2 separate regions of the Homo sapiens genome follow, and region 1 is linked to region 2. A link means that fine-mapping ties the variant in region 2 to the expression of a gene that starts in the linked region. Tissue or cell type: whole blood. Region 2 holds a variant in brackets; the other region holds the start of a gene. All regions are shown on one strand. Distances are from middle to middle.

Region 1 (2,687 bases), 500 kb before region 2:
CAGGAGACTCAGCCAGTCAAGTCCTTCCAACTTCTGCCTGCTTTTATTCTAGCCATGCTGGCAGCTGATGAGATGGTGCCCACCCAGACTGAGGGCTGGTCCGCCTCTCCCAGTCCACTGTTAATCTCCTTGGCAACACCCTCACAGACACACCCAGGAACAATACTTTGCATTCGTTCATATCAATCGAGCTGACAATATTATCCATCACAGTGCCTCAGTCTCCCCAGTATTCAGGGGAGGGCAGAGATGTTGTCTTTTTGTCCTTCTGTTCCATGGCGTGCCCAGATCCTGTGATGGCAGGTGCTCACTATATCTATGGAACTGAAAGGCCAGACCCTGGGGAGAGGACAGAGCAGGTTTGGGAGCCAACTGTGAAACCTTGGCAGTGGGAGTCAGGAAGAGCAACCTAGGTCTTTGCATCCTCATGCAACAAGGATGGAGGCCACCTCAAGTACACATTATGTGCTCAGCAAAGACGAGATTTAAAAGTATAAAACATTCACATTTGAGCAACTTAGGTCATTAAGAATTTGGCCTCTTTATAATGATAGCAGTGTCCACAGGAAGAGAGTGAGTGGGACATGAAATTTCTGGTTCTGCATGCAGACTTCTACATTTCTACCAGCTAATTATTATTATCATTAAATTATTAAGCAAAGAGCTTACTCGCAAAGGTCAACTTTTTATAAAGCATAAGTCATCCTTGGAAGTGTCGTTTGGTCATTCTAGTAATTCTTGCTTTTAATTCTTTAACAACTATGGGTAGAACTGCAGTGTACCATTATTCCACCTTTGTTTGCACTGTCAAAATACCCAAGACGTTGCCAAGGACGACTGAATTCTTAGGCTTGGCCGCAGCCACCCACAGGGCAGGTGCTCACTTCCTCCTCCGGGGTAGAAGAGATCATGGGTCCCTTTCCAGTCCAGGCTGGAATGGAGAAGTCGTCCCTGACCACAGTGCGCCAGGCAGAGGCCAAGGTTCTAAACTGATAGAACCCACCCACCAGGGCGGTGCCAAGTCCCAGTAAGGGCCGCATCTCCCCAGCTTGGCTGATGAAGAGGCGGGGACCGAACCCTCCAGTGCAGGAGCCTGTCTGGTGCCTGGCTCTCCCACCGATCCGCACGTACCTCTTCCTCGCGGGTCCTACCCCACGCAGGTATCTAGCGCCCAGCCCTGTTCATTTCCCACACCTGGCCCGCTCCGCCCCGGGGCCGAGGAGACGCACGTCTGATTGGCCGAGGGCGGCGGGGGCGGGGCCGGGGCGCCCCCAGAGGCCTAGACAGAGGTGCGGGCGGGGCAGGCCGCGCTCAGCAGGCGGGGCGGGAGCCGCGTGCGCCCGAGGACCCGGCCGGAAGGCTTGCGCCAGCTCAGGATGAGGACAGGCTGGGCGACCCCTCGCCGCCCGGCGGGGCTCCTCATGCTGCTCTTCTGGTTCTTCGATCTCGCGGAGCCCTCTGGCCGCGCAGGTAACCGCGGGCACGCCAGCCCCGCAGTCCGCTGGGTGCCTCGACGCCACAGCTCTGCTGCCTTCCAGCCTGGGGCAGGGCTGCGCCCCTGGGGCAGGTCACGGCTGCTTTGCTGTTGGGGCGGGGGGGCTCTGGAGCCGGAAGAGTGAGTCGCAGGGGAGGTCTGGCAGAGGAAGCGCCCCAGTGCCCTCGGGGGCCCGGAGGAGGGCGCGGTGGATGTGGGAGGACAGGGCCCTTCTGGTGCAGAGGGGACGCGGTGCACCGTAGAGTAGGCGCACGGAGGCTTTTTTGGCCGGGTGCGCTGCTCCATCGTCGCCTCTCTTATATAATGTTGCTGGAGTATGGGGTTCCCCATCTGCCCTCTTGCGTCCCGTCCCTCCCGTTCTCGCTTTTCCTTCGGCCCTTGGTCACCTTGGCCACAGGGCCAAGAGGAGCCTCCACCCACAGCGCCAAGGATTCCCCACGATTCCCGGATTTCACTGCGCCTACGGTGCGCATCAGGAAGGAAGTCAGGTTAAATAAACCATCTCCTCCGAAAGTGACCAAGACCAAGAGTCAGCTATGATGCCCTCACCCACCGCCTAGAGCAACAAACCTTTCTTCTCATTGGTTTATCAGCTCCAAATGACCCCGCTCCCCCAAGGCTGACAGCCTCACGGTGAAGGGCAGGTCGCCTGCTTGGGGACCTGCTGCCTCTCACTGCGGAAGCAGGACCAGAAACAGACAGCCTTCATTGATGTTCAGGGTAGTGCCAGCCCCACCACACCACACCCCTTGGCAGCAACCGGTTGCTTTTACTTTCTCTTTTTGCCTGGGCGAGGGGTGTGCAGAGAACTTTGTTTCTTGGTTGGACTGCATCATGGGCACTCAATGGGCCACCCTCCACCGGCCACTTCTGTTATCGTGCCTGTATGAGGAAGGAAAAGATTGTCCAGGCAGTTTGAAAAACATTAAATTGTTGGTGGCTCTTATTTTCTTTGCAGCTAAGCTAAGTTACCATCTGGTTTAGACTTCCTTCGGAGAGCGATGGGAAGAGATTTCTCAGAGTGTGAATGGCATCATCCTATCTACAGCAAGGACCTGGAAATGAACCCTGCTCTGAGTCACACTTCTCTATTCTCCTTTGACCCTGTGTGCTAGGAACTACCAAAAGAATCCTTTAAAATAAGATCCTTTATTGCCTTGATAATTTATTCTGCCTGCCCCACAATCCAAGG
Region 2 (2,687 bases):
TGCAGCAAAAGATCGTACTTATGCCATATTTTCTAGGAAACATTTTTATCAGCACATCTTTACATTTCAAGACAAAGTCAGGCCTCTATTGTAGAATTCAAAACTTTCAATTCTTAATGTTAAAGAAATATTTATCTGGCATTATTATAGATGAGAATAATATTCTTCACCCATATTATTATCAGAGGTTGCTGACCCTGAAGGTCAGTTTATAGGTTTTTATGTCCTAGAGTATTTAGTGAACAGGACATCTTTTTTGTGTGACCCAGAAATTTTTGATGATGCCTGTAACCTCCTAATATTGAAAATGGTTGGGACATTGGAGATAATACTTTATCATCATCTTCCATTTTATTTTTCATTAACACTTCCAGTTTACTAGATGAAATTCGACTTTTTTAATCTCTTCTCCTTTTTAAAAGTCTCAGTGATAGAAAACTGGCCATAGTGACCAACTTCACTTCAGCTGTTATGAGGACATATGGTTACGTTCTTAGCTAAAATCTTAAGGCATTTAAACTTTGCTTAAAGATTTTTAGAAATAGTGGCATATAGACTGTGGAGTCAGAAAGTCCTGGGGTTTCTTTGGGGGTTTTTTTGAGACAGAGTCTCACTGGAGTGCAGTGGTGCAATCTCAGCTCACTGCAACCTCTTCCTCCCGGGATCAAGCAGTTCTTCTGCTTCAACCTCCCAAGTAACTGGGATGACAGGTGCCCACCACCACGCCTGGCTAATTTTTGTATTTTTAGTAGGGGTGGGGGCTTCATATGTTGGCCAGGCTGGTCTCGAAGTCCTGACCTCAAGTGATCCACCTACCTCAGCCTCCCAAAGTGCTGGGATTACAGGCATGAGCCACTGTGCCCAGCCAGTTGTGGGTTTTTTTCTTGGCTATGCTATTTAACCTCTAGGAGCCTTAGTTATTTTTTGTGTAAGCGGGGCAATCATGTTGATCTTATTAAGTAGCTGTGAACATTAAACAAGGTGGTGTAAATTTAACACAACAGGCCGGGCACGCTGGCTCACGCCTGTAATCCCAGCACTTTGGGAGGCCGAGGCAGGTGAATCACGAGGTCAGGAGATCGAGACCATCCTGTCTAACACGGTGAAACCCCGTCTCTACTAAAAGTATAAAAAATTAGCTGGGCGTGGTGGCGGGCGCCTGTAGTCCCAGCTGCT[C/T]GGGAGGCTGAGGCAGGAGAATGGCGTAAACCTGGGAGGTGGAGCTTGCAGTGAGCCGAGATCACGCCACTGCACTCCAGCCTGGGAACAGAGCAAGACTCCGTTTCAAAAAAAAAGAAAAGAAAGAAAAAGAAAAATTTAACACAATAGTGCCTGCGATCAATAAATGGTGGAAATTTTTAGAGCTCAAGTGATTCACGTGTTAGCAATTATGTTCCTTGTCAATGAACATAATTTAGGTTTCTTTGTTCAGTGGCTACAAAATTTAAACAATGTATAATACAAAGTGATGCTTTCTAAAATGATTATATGAGTAATATTATATACCACTTTTAGAGTTTGAAGTATTCAGACCAAGTTTGCCAGCAGAAGAAAGCAAGGATATTACATGGTTTCTGTGTCTGTTACACCCTTTGCCACAGTAATGCTTGGTAACAACCACCAAACCTTAGTAGCACACAACACTGTCTTAATCACTTGTGCACATGGAATCAGCTGGAAATTAGCTAAGCAGCTTTGCTTATCTTGGCTGGGCTTGTTCACATTTGTAGGGTCAACTGCTCCCTGTGTCCCAATCTCCCAATAGCCTAGCCCCCAAATCATATCTTCAGTCTTGGGCAAAGCACAAGAACAAAAGCCGAAAGAATACAACTAAACTTTCAAGCTCTGTTTTCATCACAACTGCTAACATCCTCTTAGCCATGGAAAATCACATGGTTGAGTTCAGAATCAAGGGACGGGAAAATATATTCCACCTCTTGATGGGAATTGCTCCAAAGTCACATTACAAATGTCATGGATAAAAGGAGAAATGAAGAATTGGGGACATTAACTTTGTTCATCTACCCTAGTTTCATACATGTATCCTTGAAGATTATAAGAACTAGGTTGTCTTTAAAAGTCATTGAAATTCTGCTTTCTTTTTATTTAGGAGATTTAGTCCCTCTCCTTCATAAATGAAAATATCACTGGATTCAGGAACTTAACCATTATAGCTAATTGAAATACTAAGTTTGGGTGGGAGGGGACTTTGTATTTGTTTTAATTGAGAGTCTTTCTTTTTTTTTTATATGTTAAGACTGAAGCTACATTACAAGTCTTAAAATATTAGCAGCTATTTTCCCACTAAGTGGGGTTTACTTGAAATGTGAAAAAAAATGTACTTAAATAAGCCTCTCTGATAAAGATTAAAAGAAACCTCATTTTTATGTAGTCCTAGATATGGGATCATATTTGATGAAATAATTTGATTATTTCCATTGGAATGAACATTCAGTTTCCGTTGGAATGAACATGACGTTGTCTACCACACCACTCTTCTACTTGGTATCTGTCTGACCTTAGGCAATTTTCTTAAATATTATATCCTCGGCTGGGAGTGGTGGCTCACACCTGTAATCCCAGCACTTTGGGAGGCCGAGGCGGGGCAGATCATGAGGTCAGGAGATGGAGACCATCCTGGTCAACATGGTGAAACCCCATCTCTACTAAAAATACAAAAATTAGCTGGG

The links. PIP is the estimated chance that this variant, and not a neighbour inherited with it, causes the effect.
Region 1: it holds the start of LY75, and the variant in region 2 is fine-mapped to the expression of LY75 in whole blood (INTERVAL, PIP above 0.99).

What each region holds. Positions count from the first base shown.
Region 1 is chr2:159,903,372-159,906,058 of GRCh38, reverse strand. It overlaps LY75 (lymphocyte antigen 75), which reads left to right and starts at 1,303. Exons shown (of 35, transcript NM_002349.4): 1 at 1,303-1,470. The coding sequence starts at 1,377. LY75-CD302 (LY75-CD302 readthrough) reads left to right here and starts at 1,303. Exons shown (of 38, transcript NM_001198760.1): 1 at 1,303-1,470. The coding sequence starts at 1,377. RefSeq lists silencers at 1,101-1,342, 1,112-1,571 and enhancers at 1,752-1,831, 1,972-2,021, 2,242-2,291, 2,342-2,391.
Region 2 is chr2:159,405,370-159,408,056 of GRCh38, reverse strand. The region is part of intron 14 of BAZ2B (bromodomain adjacent to zinc finger domain 2B); the gene reads left to right. Among named protein-coding and RNA genes, the nearest start is that of WDSUB1, 120 kb to the right of the region's middle. The variant C/T (reference allele first, on the strand shown) is at 1,177.